Linked DNA regions of Homo sapiens: region 1 is linked to region 2. Evidence: fine-mapped expression QTL. Tissue or cell type: whole blood. Region 2 holds a variant in brackets; the other region holds the start of a gene. All regions are shown on one strand. Distances are between the middles of the regions.

Evidence for each region. PIP is the estimated chance that this variant, and not a neighbour inherited with it, causes the effect.
Region 1: NFATC2 starts here. The variant in region 2 is fine-mapped to the expression of NFATC2 in whole blood (TOPMed, PIP 0.97).

Annotation. Positions count from the first base shown.
Region 1 is chr20:51,537,897-51,545,896 of GRCh38, forward strand. It overlaps NFATC2 (nuclear factor of activated T cells 2), which reads right to left and starts at 4,823. Exons shown (of 11, transcript NM_012340.5): 1 at 4,474-4,823. The coding sequence starts at 4,603. RefSeq lists an enhancer at 3,124-3,793 and silencers at 4,558-4,667, 4,678-4,837.
Region 2 is chr20:51,508,309-51,516,308 of GRCh38, forward strand. The region is part of intron 3 of NFATC2 (nuclear factor of activated T cells 2); the gene reads right to left. Among named protein-coding and RNA genes, the nearest start is that of NFATC2, 30 kb to the right of the region's middle. The variant G/A (reference allele first, on the strand shown) is at 4,462.

The DNA of each region.
Region 1 (8,000 bases), 30 kb after region 2:
TAAAATGGATAATTTCCCAGAAAGATAGAGTTTACAAAAATTGACTCCAGTAGAAGTAGAAAGTGTAAAGAGACCAATTCCCACAGTATAGAGAAAGCCATCAAGAAACAACTCCACAAAGAAGCACCAGGTCCAGGCGGCTTCACAGAGGAATTCTATCACAGCTTTAGAGACCAGGGAGTCCCAGGGAGACAGAAATTATTCCTGAGCTTAGAAAAGGAAAGAAACCTAAACCTGATAGCACAAAAAATAGGCCAATATGAATATCACTCATGAATACTGAAAAATGCTTAAATATTATCTGATGCCACAACCACCTTAAGAAAATAATACACCAAGTGGAGTCCATACCAAGGATGTCTTCATATAAAGAAATCTAATAATGTATGCCAACACATTAATAGGTCTACGAAGAATAAGATCATATTTTTCCATAGATGCTAAAAAAGCCTTTGATATAATTCAACTCCCATTTGTAATAAAAACTCTCGGGGGAAAAAAGAAAGAACTAATACTTCCTTTACATAATTCATACACCTCAATTTTAAAGCCAACACTGGAGTCCTCCTCCAAGGCAAGGATGCCCACTGTCTTCACTATCATGTAACACTCTACTGGAGGTATTAGTTAATGCAATTAGACAAGAGAAAACAACAGAGGCACAATTAGAGGCAGTAGCTCAGAGAGGACAGGATCTGGGTCTCATTCCCCGTTGTGACCCTAGGATCTAACACAGAGGGTGCTCAATAGCTGAATGAGTAAATAAACAATGGCTCATATTAATTGAACACCTCCATTAACAAAAGCAAGGGTTTACTAAACCACTAGTAACAGATCACATGCTGTGTTGATTTAAATGGGTTAACCTATTCAAGGCAGGTAACGGTCCTATGAGGCAAGTGGTATTATTTCAGCCATTTTACAGATAAGCAGACAGATGTCCAGAGAGATGAGATGACTTGCTCAAGATCACCTTGTTGGTAAACAAGGTTTTCAATTCCAGCCCTGCCATGGTCCCAGACACCTTGCTAACTGGTTTGCATGTGTCTCTCACCAAATGAGAGAATGAGGACCCTAACACAATAGTTCAGAACACATGGTATGGAGCAACACTGCCCATTTTGGGAAAATTACTTTACCTCTCTGTGCCTTAGCGTCCTCCTCCATAAAACAGGGGTGATAATAGTGCCTGCCTCCTAGGGTTGGAGTGGAATCACATGGGCTAATGAACGTCTGCTACATGCTAAACTCCATAAAATGAGCATCCGACCTCCCCAAAATTCCCTAATTTACCTTCACCAATTCTATCAACAATGTCTGCCCCATTAGCAGTACCTTTCCTTCCTTGGTTTTTGCCAAGCTCGTGCCCAGAGTTAAGGATAGAACTTTACATGCGTCACCAATATGTTGCCATCTGGGACAAAACCTAATAAAAAGATTAAGGCTAGTGTTCACCCCTGAGGAGTCCCACCATACAGAAGCAAAGAGAGGTGACTGCTATTAACATCTGGGTGACCCAGAGCCAGATGCACATCTGGGGCAGTTCACATTAGCCTCTTAAAGCTTACCATGTCCCTTCTCTTTTTTTGTCTGGTTTGTTGGTTTGAGACAGGGTTTCGCACTGTCCCATGGGCTGGAGTGCAGTGGCACGATCACGGCTCAGGGCAGCCTCGAACTCCTGGGGTTAAGAGATTCTCCTACCTAAGCCTCCGAGTAGCTGGGAAGCTGGGTCTACAGGCATGCGCAACTAGGCTAGGCTAATTGTTTTATTTTTTTATTTTTATTAGAGATGAGGTCTTGCTATGTTGCCCCAGCTGGTCTTGAAGCCCTGGACTCAAGCAATCTTCCCACCTCGACTTCCCAAATTGTTGGGATTGCAGGCATGAGCCACCACTCCCGGCCACAGCATCCCTTCTCTTTCTGGGTGCTAACTCTTCTGTGCTGCCTACTTCTCAGCAAAGAGTAAGTGCTTTCCAGATTCTGGAGTATTACTCTGTACTCCTTAAGTGTGGGCTTCATGTAGTAATGCCTTCCAAAGAGTTTGAAGAAACTGAGAAAAGCTACCTCTACTGGGTAATCAAGGTTAGCATTAATGATAAATGACATGGATAGTATACTTTTTGTTGTTGTTTTTTGAGACAGAGTCTCACTCTTGTCACCCAGGCTGGAGTGCAATGGTGCCACCTGCCTCACTGCAACTTCTGCCTACTGGGTTCAAGCAATTCTCCTGCGTCATCCTCCTGAGTTTCTGGAATTACAGTGCCTTCCACCATGCCTGGCTAATTTGTGTATTTTTAGTAGAGTTGGGGTTTCACCATGTTGGCCAGGCTGGTCTTGACCTCCTGACCTCAGGTGATCCGCCCGCCTCAGCCTCCCAAAGTGTTGGGATTACAGGCGTGAGCCACCACGCCTGGCTGGATAGTACATACTCTTGATACGATGTGATGAGAAGGGAGCTTTATCTTTGTGGGCTTCCTCCCGAAAACCTAGAGCCCTAGTCTAATGAAGGGACAGTCTACAATACAACCAACACTCCTCAAAACAGTGAAGGTCACATAAAACATTCCCAATCTGAATAAGGCATAAACCTCAGTTAATAATGTGTCAATATTGGTTTGTTGGTTACAATAAATGCACCATACTAATGTAAAACATTAATAACACGGGGAAACAGGGTATTGGGTATATGGGAACTCTCTGTGCTATCTTTGCAACTTTTCTGTAAATCTGAAACTGTTCCAAAAACTGAAGTTTTTTTTTTGTTTTTTTTTTTTTGAGAAAACAGATTCCAGGGCTTTCATTGTGGTCATTTAGATACCCATCTGGTGGCCACCAAGCAGCACTTGCCAAGAAAAACCATAAAAAGTACCTCCCTTCAGATTTGGCTTGGAAACTATTTCCCCGGAAATCCCCCCACCCCACCCGACAAGGAAAATAAAAGCTGATTACCAATCTGGGAGGGGTGTGAGTATTCGTTCCCTGAAAAACATGACTTTAATCTTAATGAACAGAAAGACCACGGATATTAGTGCGGATCGTTTGCAGATTCTTAATTGTATCTTTTCAAAGCAAAAGATGTCCTCCAGATTGCAACTCTAGAAGACTGGTCTCTTCTGTTGGCTAATTGTTTCCATCTCCAGCCAAGACACAAAATTATTACTAATGACCATCTCTGGGTATCCAAGGGAAGAGGATACCCAAAGCTAAAGCAAACCCCTCACCTAACGTGGCCAGAGAGGACACCGATGGAAGCGAAAACTTCATTATCTGCCTAACACAGTGTTTGTGGGAAACATCAGGCCACCAAGCCTCCTTGACAGGCTTCCTCCACGAGCCAGTCAGCACAAGCCCTTCCTACACACTAGATGGAGGCAAGCCCAGAGTGCGTCTGGAAGCTACTAACAGGCCTGCCACTGAGCCTTCAACAAGCATTGGCTGGGCTGGGCTGGGCTGTCAAAATCAGGAAGCCTGGTTGGGTTTTTTGTTTTTTCCAAGACAACCTGCTAACCAGAAATACACAGTGAGGTTGGGCGTGTGGCCGCTTCCCCCTCCTCCTCCTCCTCCCTCTAACGAATGCTCCTGTTAAACACGTGAAGTGACAGATAAGCATTGGGCCCAGCCCGGGGAAGTCCCCAGCCCCCAGCAACTGAGGGCAGTTGGAGGCACAGAGTGACAAAGTTCAGGCAGAAAGAGCCTGTGTCCTTCTGAATCCATGCTGCAGCTGCCCCTCACCCTACCCCATCCCACCACATCCATTAGGACTAAGCGTAGAAGATCACTTAATATAGCTCAGACCAATCCTCTTGTGAGTGGTAAGTGATGGGTTCAGCAGCAGAACCCAGGGAGGAAATGGGCCGGCCTTATAATACCAAAGGTTTTAACCCTCTCCAGCATCAGACAGACAACCTCTTCCTCAGTTTCAACACAAAGTCCCCGTCAACCACTGCTCACAGGAGGTGATGGGAGCTGCGTGGCCTCACTTCAGTGCCTGGAGGGAAGGAGCGGCCTCCTACCCTTGATAACTGGGTTCAGCTGCACCCCCCTTCCTTCTTTTTTTGGCAACTCCTCCCTGCTAACTCCATTCTTCGCTTCCTCACCTCCTCCCTCCAAAGGCACAGAAATCATGTCCCTTGCCCTTTGACAGCCCAGTCCCAGGCAAGAGGCCAGCAGACAGCACCCGCCCCCCAGCCTTGGGACCTGCCTGCCACCTTTTGTTTTGCTGAGAGTGACCCTCAGGGAGCAGTCATGAGCAACCAGAAACTGGTGCCCCTAAGGGGCAAGAGGGAGCCGACCGCCCCCTAAGGGTGGCAGGGGCCACTGACGCCTCCCCTCCCTGGCACCTGGGTAGGGGCACCCTCCCTCCAGGCCCCTTAGGAAGGGGGACGGCTGGAGCCAAGAGGACTCCTGTGCCCAGTCCCCAGGCCTGAGCCCCTGGCGGGCTCAGGGGCCAGGCCAGGGGTAGCCTCCACCGACCTTCGTTCGGATTCAAATACTCATAGTCGAAGAGGATGGAGAAGTCAAGCTCGTCTTGGGGGCTGCCCCCAGGCTCGTGGCCTGGGGCGTCCCCGCCGTCGGGTTGGGGCTGCCGCTCGGGGGCGTTCATGGCGCGCAGGGCGGGAAGGCTGCGGGGCCGGGGGCGAGGGCGGGCGCGGCTGGCTCTGGGACCCCTCGCAGTGGGGCTGGCGGAGGCGGCTCGAGCGGCGGGGTCCCTTTCCTCGTAGGGACGCACGCCGGGTCCGGGGACGGCGCGCCTGGCGCAGCGGGTCCTGGACGCGCCCGGGGAAGCTGAGCGGCGGCGGCGACGGCGGCGCGAGCTTCCTGCTCCGGAGGCACCTGTTGCAGCCCGGGGAGGCGGGGGGGGGGGGGGCGTGGAGGCGGGGACAGGGCGGCCAGGCCGGCGGGGGCGGGGCCGCCACCAGGGGACCGGAGGGGAGGGGCGCGCGGCCTGGGCTGGCCGGTGCCGGGAGGAAGGAGGCTGTCCGCGGACCTGACCACACTGTCCCGGGCCACCGCTGGGCGCTGGGGCGGCCGCTGTCTCCCACCCTCCACGGGTGAGTGCGACACGCGCTGCGCGAACCAGGGTCTAGACAAGAAAGCTGCCGCCACTAGGACTTTTGCCCTAAGGGACCCACTGGCCCCACACTTTTTCCTGCTTTTCTTCTCCATGGGGTGGAAGGGGGTATCCACCCCCTTCTATTGCAGACCCGTGTCTCCAGGCGTCTCCGTGTGCCCACGGGGGCGGCATGATTTTCACAGTACTTCAGACACCTGCATGGCCCTGAACTCAACTCCCCAGCGCCTAGGAAGGAATCGGACTGACAGCACTAGTCCCCCCCGTTACAGCTATGCCTCCTGGCCACCTACCACGTGCCAGGTGCTGGGCACCCAGCCGGAGCCAGACACTGTTGCCCTCGGAAGCTCAGGCTCTGGTAGTGGGAGAGGCCTGAAGGAGAGAAACAGGACAAAAAGCATCTGCTTATGGGGCCAGGAGAGAACTCACCAGGGTATGGGATAAAGGTTGGGGTGGCTTTAGTCCCTTGGGTGGTCAAGGAGGACCTCTCTGAGGAGGTGACATTTGAAGAAACCTGATTGATGAGGCGATCTTGGGGAAGTGTGTTCTGGCAGTGAGAACCAAAACACAGAGCCAGAGCTCGAAGGGGCTGGGTGTGCTGGAGGGAGAACGAGGAGTACAGTTCTGATGGGGCGGTTGGCAAGTGACAAACACGCCTGGCTGCTTGTTTAAAGCATGATTCCCAGGCCCCTCCCTGGAGCTTCTGATTCCATAAGTCTGAATACAGACTCGTGAATGTGTATTTTTAATTAAGCACCCAACGTGAGCATTAATGAACAGGTACATTTGGCAAACACTGCATAAGGACCCAGTAACTAAAGAACACCCTCCAATAAAACTCTGCCAGGGGGCTCCACCAACTTAGCTGAAGTTGGAAACAGACTCACAGAGGTAGAAAAGATCAAAACAGTGGTCTTCAACCCTTCCCACATATTAGAATCACCTGGGACACCTTTTTAAACTCCCGTGCTGGGCTGCAATCCAAACCCACTGAAGCAGAATTCCTAATTTTTTTTTTTTTTTTTTTTTTTTTTTTTGGAGACGGAGTCTCGCTCTGTCGCCCAGGCTGGAGTGCAGTGGCGCGATCTTGGCTCATTGCAAGCTCTGCCTTCTGGGTTCACGCCATTCTCCTGCCTCAGCCTCCCGAGTAGCTGGGACTACAGGCGCCAGCCACCATGCCTGGCTACTTTTTTGTATTTTTAGTAGAGATGGGGTTTCACTGTGTTAGCCAGGAAGGTCTTGATCTCCTGACCTCGTGATCCACCCGCCTCGGCCTCCCCAAGTGCTGGGATTACAGGTGTGAGCCACCACGCCCGGCCTGAAAATTTTTTTAAACTTCAGATGAATCTAAGGTGCAGCCAGTGTTGAGGATGAGAAGATTAGACGGGAGAGGTCTTAAGATCCTCGTGAGAACCACAGCTTGACCTCAAGTGATTCGAATCCTTCCCCATGTGCCAGGAGGAATTGAGGACACGCATTCTTCAGGGGAGCCATCTCAGCTCCATTAAGGGGATTTGTGCCAAGCCATCCATCATTCCACAAATATTTATTGAGCACCTGCCTGGCACTGCCACAAGATGTTGGGGATGCAACCATCAACAAGCCACAGCCTCTCCCTTCATCATGCTTATGCCCTGAAAGCAAAGTAGCACAGTTATGAACGGGGTTTTCAAAATTGCACTCAGACCAGTGGTTCTTAACCCAGACTACACATTAGAATCACCTGGAGAGCTGTTAAAATTTGTATTCAACGACCTGAGCACCACCAGACATCGATTTGATCAGAATGTTTGGGGTTGGGACTTAGGCATCAGTATTTTGTAAAAGCTCACCAGATGCTTCCAATGTGTGGCCAGAGATGAGAACCACTTTGGTTTAGACTCAAACTCTACTGCAGGGGCCTGGGGGCTGGCTCAGGAATCATTTCAGAGTCTTGGGCAGCACCTCCTGGTTGTCAGAGCATAAAGAAATTCCAGCCTTTGTTTCCTAACTATAAGCACTTCTGTGCCATGTGTATCCAACAAGCATCTTGGGGGCAGCTGATGCATTTAGGTGGAGGAAGGAAGAGTGAAGACCCCAGCTAGGATACTTATAGACAGGTATCTAGAAAGAGATGGATTCTTCTGGGTCCTTATGACAGGGACCCAAGGTCCAGATGATGAAATTTTGGCCAATAAACAAGAAAACCAGGCTTCCCCTGTGATTTAGAAAAGGAGAAAAGCTAGGAATGCCTCCCCACATCCTTTCTCGTCCCTCCATCCCATAATTATTAAGTGCCACTAAATCTAGTGGACATTTGTTGATTGTGCCTACCCAGAATAATTCCTCCCTTCTTCTCATAACAGCACCCCAGTGTGTTCCTTGGGGAAACTACTCTAAACATAATCTTGGTAGAGCTATCAACCCAGCTGCCCCACCTTCCCCAAGCAACGAAGTGGATGAATGACCCAGACTGCGCCAATCAGAGAATTTTATCTCCACTAACTAGCCTGAGATCCACTAAGGCAGGGGCTATGACCACCTCATTCGCAGCTTTATGTGCAATGGATGTGTGGATAAATGGAGGATGGATAAGTAGATGGATTGATGGATGGGTGAATGGAAGATGGATGCATGGATGGAAGATGGATGGATGGATGAATAGATGGGTGGATGGATGGATAGGGGATGGATTGATGGATGGGTGAATGGAAGATGGATGCATGGATGGAAGATGGGTGGATGGATGAATAGATGGGTGGATGGATGGATAGGGGATGGATGGAAGAATGGATGGATGATGGATGGAGGAGTGGATGGAGGGTGGATGGACGGATGGATGGAGGATAAATGGATAAATGGATGAATGAAAGATACATGGATGGATTGATGGAGGATAGATGGATGAATGGATGGATGAAAGAGTGAATGTGTTGCACGGATGAGTGGA
Region 2 (8,000 bases):
CTCTCCACCTCTCACCTCGGAGGCCAGGGTGCAGGTCTCAATCGTTTCACAAGTCCATCCTCGACCACTGCGGGCATCCCTCAGCCGGGGACACGTGCGGCGGGGCAGAGAGCAGTGCCACAACTGGCCCACGGGTGTACCTGGTTTGGACTGTAGTCTTTTTCAAATTTTAATGAAATCACCAGTCTCATCAAAAGACTGGTATAGACAAGGAGGAGGTGGTGAGGATGGCTCCTCAAAAGTCGGCCTCAGAACCCCCACATCACACACCCCGCTCTGCTACTCCCCACCCCATCCCCGCCTCCATCTTGAAGTGAAAAGGCTACATCAAGTCACCTCTAAAAGATGCTTTCCCTCTAAAAATAGCAGGAGTCTCGGCAGGGATGAACAGGGTCCCTAGAGACTCTGGCCTTTCCCAAGGCTACAGCCCCAGACAGACAGATGCCACCCCTCTTGCAGCCAGTCTCAAAAAAATCCAGTTAGCCTGACTTTCAAAACATGCTCTGACTCTAACCCCTTCTCCTGCTCCCCCATGCCCCCACCCTGGTCCAGCCACCATCCCCTCTGGCCTGGGCCTCTGCAGCAGCTTCTCCCTGTCCACACCCCAGCAGAGGGATCCTGCTGACACCTACGTCAAGCCAGGCCCTCCCAGCTCCCGCCTCGCTCAGAGTCCAAGTCCTCTAACTAAACATGTGCGAGGCCCACGATCCGCCCCCCTATCCTTCCCCTTCCCCTGCCCTTCCCACACAGGCCTCCTCTCTGTTCAAGATGTCACCCAACTCAGCCCTGCTCTCTCCTCAGCCTGGAGAGGTCCCTGCAGCTTCCACGTGGGCACCTCCTTCTTTGCCCAAATGTGGCTTTCCCAGGGAGATCCATCAAACCACTCCCAATTCTCCTTGGCCTGATAGTTTTCCCCATAGGACTTATCACCTCCCAACATACTATTTCATTTTCCTATTTAACATACTATTTAAAATTTTCCTATTTATAAGCTATATTGCTATCTCCCCCTAGCCAGCACATCAGCTCCACAGGGCCAGGGATTTTTGCCTGTGGTTCACTGCCATATTCCCAGTGCCAAGCACACAGTAGGTGCTTGGTAAGTATTTTTAATAAATGAGCAAATGAACCCCAGTGATCTCAGAACATTCTCCTCCTCCAATTTTTTGGAAGCCTGAGTGACCCGGCCACCACCTCTTTCCCTTCCCCTCCCCAGGAGGTCCAATGGAACCTTCTGTAGATGCCAACACAGCAGCCCTGATCAAGACAAATTAGCATCAGCAAGAACTACTTCCTGTCTCACGTCCCCAAACACAAAATTTTATTAGACAAATAGAAGCTAACACACCCAGCCAACTGCTAAAGGAGCACTGCTTACTGTCACGAGTGCAGCTTTCACCTGGAAAGGAAAAAATCCCATCTGGCTTGCTTCTTCCCTTCCTTAGATATCATTTCAAGTAAGTTGCAGTTAGCATAAAAGCTGAAATCCAACAGAATGAGCATCCACGTCCCATAATCCATTTTATGAGGTTTTGAAAGACTGGAGACTTTACCAGCTCCTCCAGCCCAGGAGGCAGTAGCCTGGACAGGTGGGCCTCAGGCCCTCACTCACCTCCCTGCAAAGCTCATTACTGTTACCGGGAATGAAATGGCCATCGGGTTTCCGCATCTGCAAGGAATTCCTCGTAACAGAGCTACCCATGTTTTTTCCACATGTCTGAACATCTGCTTGAAAGAACCAAGAGGACTCTTTGGAGGTGAGTGCGACGCTTCCACGTTCTCATATTTTGATCACTCCCTAAAAGGATGGCGTTCTGATTATTCTTTCCATTAAACATGCATCCCAGAGAGTTGTAAGAATAACATTTTTTGAAAGCCCCAGCACAAGGATGGATAAGGAATATACCAAAGTATCCCCTCCAGGGAATTTCTGTGCAGAATATGGTTAAAGGGTTTGGAAGCCGCCAGGAAAGGATTAAATGACAATGGCGTTATACAGGCCACTCTCAACTGGGATATTATTAGACCTCATAAGCTGAAGAACTATGGAAACACTTAAAGCCCAACCTTGCAAAACCGCTCTGAATGGATGTTTTGTCCACCGGAGGACCACTGCATCCTGTCCTGAAACAGGGCGAGGAATGATGGCAGGGCTCCACCAAAAGCGTGTGGCTCTTTTGAGATGAATCAAGTGGTTCCCCTTTTCATCTGATACCTGCAGACCAAAGTCAGGCTTGTGCATTAAGATTCATTGGTTCCTCTGAAAGAACCCTAGACTTGTTCTACTTCAATAAGATTTAGAACTTTTTTATTTATTTGTTTGTTTTTTTAGAGACATGGTCTCACTCTGTCACCCAGGCTGGAGTGCAGTGGCACGATCACAGCGGACTGCCGCCCTGAACTCCTGAGCTCAAGCAATCCTCTTGCCTCAGCCTCCCAAGTAGCTGGGATTACAGGTGTGAGCCACCACACTCACCTGAGATTTAGGGTTTTATAAGAGAAACTACCTCGATCCGGCTGTTAACAGGGTTCGTTCTGTAACTAGACAATTCTTAGAAATCATATAAATATAACCTCTCTCTTATCTCCCTTCCTATTTGATAAACCTTGAAGTAGCACCATTCTTATTTATTCCAGATGATGTGAACTGAAGCATATTTGCCATGAGCCAAATTCAACCCAAAGTTTGATTTATGGCCAAAACTGAAAAATCAGAAATTTCACATAAAAATTCCAACTCCTAGCTCTTGGGAAAGAAGAAAAAACAAAACCTATAAAACCTGGCAACATTCCACCCACATTCCCACATGTCACAGCCTATAGGGACTGAACAGCAACTGCCTCCTGAGGCAAGACTCACATGCCGCTCTGCCCTACTCCCCACCACCCCCTGTTGCTCCCTGACATTTGGTCAGTTCAGTCATTTCCTTTCATTGCCTGGCCCTCCTGGGCTTGTCTGTTTGTGATCTTGTTTATACAGTCTCTTCTTTGCTTCTTCCTTAGTCCACTGCTTCTAGAGAGAGGCGCATTGTTACTGAGGGTGTGGACAGTCAGTCCTTGCAAGTGGGTGCTTGCTGGGGCCTCTGGTGATGCAGCGTGTGGCCCCGAGGCATCCCACAGGCCTGAGAGCAAGTTGAGGACTTTGCTTCTGAGCTCCAAGCTCATATATCCAACTGTTTACTTGACATCTTTGCTCGTGTGCCTTGGAAGCCCTTTGTACCTTCTATGCCCCAAAGAGAACTTGCAATCTTCCCCCAAGAAAACACTTTCTTTCCCAAGTCCTTCTCCGCCATCCATCCAACCGAACCATCCACTCAGTTGCTCCTTTACCTCCCATACCTAAGTCCTGAAGATCACATTATAGAGTCCATAGCTTCCGCTCCCACTGCCACCTTCTAGTCCTTACCACCTTGATCTTTCCCCTGGTACTGCCACAGGCTAACAATCTCATCTCCCTGCTTCTTCCGTAACTTCTTCTAATCTAGTCCCCAGGGAGAAACCTGAGTGATCTATAAAATGTTAAATCAGAATCAAGTTCCTCCTCTACTCAAAACGTATCATGTCTTCCCCTTGCCCTGGAATAAGCAAAATTTCATCTCCTCACCTTGGCTTTTAAGCCCTGCACAGTTTGGGCCTGCCAACCATCACCCTGCAAGCTAAACTTGAATGACACTGGCCCTCCTTCAGCTCTTCAGCCACACACAGTCCTTCCCTGCCTCAGGGCCTTTGCATGTGCTGTGCTCTGTGTGTAGAACACTCTCCCCCGACTAAGAGAGACAGAGAGCACGGAGGAGGAGGAGGACATCATTTGTCTCTTTGCTGGTTCTATGACCTGTTCCAGGTCCCAGCTGACAAGTCACCTCCTCAACGAGACACTCTTTCTAAAGTAGGTCTTCCAAGTACCATCTCTTGTCATGGTTTGTTCTGTAGAAGCAGTTCCTCCCAAGCGGTGAATCCAATGGACAAGCTTCTAATCAGCCATCACGTCCCACCGTGAGTCCAGGCATCAGCCCACAGATCCCCTCCAAGTGGCCGCCATCTGGCCTCTCAGGCCTCCCTGACCAACTCAAACCATCCTAGTCCACTTTCCCGCAGCCCCTGAGCTCCCTCAGGGCATGAGCTGTGCTGATCTCACCAACGTTGTATCACCTGCAACCAGCACAGTGCCTGGCACATGGCAGGTCCCCAGTGAGACATTCCCCATACAAATGAGTCATGAGATCTGACAAGCACTTAAGGTTTGGGAACAAACTTTCTCCCAAGACCAAGTACCATTCAAAAAAAGCAATGAAGAGAACAGCTGAGCATGGCATATGTTTAAGATTTTTAATTGTACACTTAAGGATAAAAAATGAAATGGTCTTATATTCATTTTCTTTTTATATAAAGAGGAGCTTAAAACCACTAGGCATGAAAAAAGAATGAAGTTCTATAGTGAGGCAAATAAAAGAGAGAAGGGTG[G/A]AGACTGAGTAACTGAGAGGGGAGAAGAGGCTGTGGTTCAGAAATAGAAACAGATACAGAGATAAAGAGTGAGACAGAAATCAACAGAGAAGCCGGCGGAAGCATTCAGGCAAGGTACAAAGCAGGCTACACTGCTCTTCTGGATATGAAAGGGGCAGTGCTGCAGATTCCAGAAGGAGTTTTCACACTCCCTTGAAGGGTAAGAGCAGCAATCCTCTTAAAGTCCACTCTTTTCTCAATTTTTCCAAGAAGTTTTTTTTTTTAAACTGACTTCCCATGCTAAAAATCAGTAATTAGCATGACTTATTTTGAAAAAACATAATCTATTCAAATGACTTTTTAAAAAGACTCCACTTTTTGTCTTTTAAAGAGACTTGTCTGCAAGTTTTTAAATCATATATTGGATCTTCAAAGTTACAGGCACTTGGGCCACTTGTGGTGGCTCACACTGTAATCCTAACACTTTGGGAGGATGAGGTGGTAGGATCACTTGAGCCCAGGAGTTCAAGACCAGCCTAAGCAACGCAGGGAGACCATGTCTCTACAAAAAAGGAAAAAATTAGCTGGGCATGGTGGTAACACGCCTATAGTCCCAACTACTCAGGAGGCTGAGGTGGGAGGATCACTTGAGCTCAGAAATTCAAGGCAGCAGTGAGCAGTGATCATGCCACTGCACTCCAGCCTGGGTGACAAAGCAAGATCCTATCTCTAAAATAAGCAAACAAATAAACAAACAAACAAAGTCACATGCATGAAGAGGCAAGAGTCCTTGGGAGCTATCAGAGGGAGAAGCACAAACTTCAGGGACAGCCTAGCAGGTGTCTCCTGGACTGTACACTCAGCCCATTCCCTTCTCTGGAAATTTCCAGGGCCCCAGCCCCTGATGAATGGGTGAGCTGAGCCTCACTCCTCATGCAGCCCAACCTCCAGGCCACAGCCTACTGGACCAATGGGCGGCACCCTCCCAAGACAGGGCCAATCAGCATCTCCCTGAGAATCAGGATTTAGCTCCCATGAGGTGATGACAAGGCTCATACTGGAACAGCATGCAAAACTAGGGGGAATGGAGTGGCCCGCAGGAGGCGTGGGCATTTCCCCTTCAGGCTTTTTCTGCACAAGTGAGAAGGCAGGAAGAGCTGGTCTGCAAAGAGACGTGGATGATCAGATCTACTGTGCTGCAAATAGAGCTTGCGGTATCCAAATCCCAGCTCCACCATTTAATAGCCATAACCTTGAACAAGTCCTTGACAGCTACTTGACCTGTTACCTGCATCATAAGGCTCTTTTGAGGATTAAATAAGTTAACACATATGCAGCACTTGGAACAGGATCTCACAGGCAGCAAATGTTTTCTAAATGTTTATTATTACTATCATCTTGCCAAAATGTAAGCTCATGATGGTGAGAATTTCCAGCTGTTTTGTTCATATCATAACCCAGAATCAAGCACCATGCCTGGTACATAGTAGGTGCTCAATAAACATCTTTTGAATAATCAGTGAATGAAGATGCCACAAAGCCAGAAATGGATACAGATTCTCTCTCCTTAAGACTTAAAATTGTTTGGCCAATGCATTTAATGAGCAGATTCATTCTCCAAGTATTTGTTGAGTGCCTGCTATGTTTGTGGCAGCAAACTGTGCTTGATGGTGATATACAATGAAGAATAAGAAGGAAGTTGTGGTCTCTTTTAAACAAAGCTCATGGTCTAAGAGAGAGAGACATTGACAAAATAATTATGCAAATGTTAGAATTACAAGTAGTGGCAGGTAGCATGAAGGAAAGGTGCATGGAGCTGTGGACACATAAAACAGAGCACTTGGCCAGGCACGGTGGCTCACGCCTATAATCCCAGCACTTTGGGAGGCCGAGGTGGGTGGATCACTTGAAATCAAGAGTTCAAGACCAGCCAGACCAATATAGTGAAACCCTGTCTCTACTAAAAATACAAAAATTAACCAGGCATGGTGGCGCACACCTGTAATCCCAGCTACTCAGGAGGCTGAGGCAGAGGAATCACCTGAACCCAGGAGGCAGAGGTTGCAGTGAGCCAAGATTACACCACTGCACTCCAGCCTGTGTGACAGAGTGATAGACTCTGTCAAAAAATACATATATATATTACATAAGGCAATTGCTCTCAGGATTGGACGGCAGGAATCAGAAGACTGCGGTCCCCAAGGGAGAGGAAGTGCACAGGTGAGCCCACCTTCATTTCAGCTCTCTGCCTGGGGACAGCTCCCCTGCCACGTGCAGGAAGTAGCATCTGAGCAGAGCACAGTGGTCCCGCTGTGCTGAGGATTCCTGAAATAATCCTGGATTCCTGGCACCGCTCAGAGTGCCAGGCTGTGGAAACTGCTGGAATCGGTGGCATCAGAGAGGAGGAAGCTGCTGGGGGAAACCCTCAACTCTTTGGCCAAGGGCTGGGCTGTGTAAGCACAGGGAGAGATGGTGCGAGGTTTACCAGAGAGGGGCTGCTATGGGGTGGAGAGAACAGAGAGACTAAGAGTGCAGCGGAGCTGGCATATGGGAATTCCAGCCCACCAGATTAAAGAGACCTCCCCACCAAGCATCCAAAATGGCCATGCCTTCAGAACAGGCACATGCCTCAGAGGAAGGGCTACTCCAGGCCTGCCCTAATGGGGCCTAAAACCAATCCTCAAATAAAATACAGAGAAGACAGTTTAAAATCTAAGCCCCATCAAGTTAGATACACCTTGTGCTTTCCACAGATCCACCTGATGAAGCACGAAAGAAAGTTCAGAATGTCTACCACATCCAGTATATATCATCACGATGTCAGAATGCAGTCGACAACTACTAGACAGGCAACACAACAGGAAAATGGGACTCATGGTCAAGAACCAAAACTCAATGAATAGAAACAGATTCCAAGATGGCTATGGTGTCTGATTTAAAAAAAAAAAAAAGCAATTGTCAGGACTTACAAGTTCTTAATATTATCATAGATGTCCTTAATCAGAGGTACACACCCAAAGCACCTGTGGAGATTTGGGGAGTTTGCTGTTTTTCATTTGTTTGTTTGTTTACCTGGGCTTTACTCATGTTATATAGTTTCTAATTTAGTTTCAGAATGCCCAACAATCTGAATTTTTAAGAACCACCCTAGAGGTTCTGATGCACACTATAGATTAAGAACCAAGTTTTATCATATTAATAGGATACTTCTACTTTAAGGCAAATACCAAAAAAAGTTATATTAATTTAAATGTATTAAAGGTTCTAGTTAATTGACTTGTTAGTGGGCACCAGTCAGTTGTTCCTGGTTAACCAGATTATACAATTAAGAATATTTCAACTCCAATTATTTTGGGGAAAAATAGGCACACTTCTCTACTTATTTTGAAAAAAAAATCTGAGGTTAAATCAAAAGCCACAGACACACAAAAAAGCTACTGATTAAGAAAAAAACAAAAGGAAATGCTCATGGCAAAATGTAAACTTAAAAAATCAGAGTACAATCTACATGTTCACTATAGAATTAAGAATAGAAATATATGGTAACAGAGGCTGGCGTG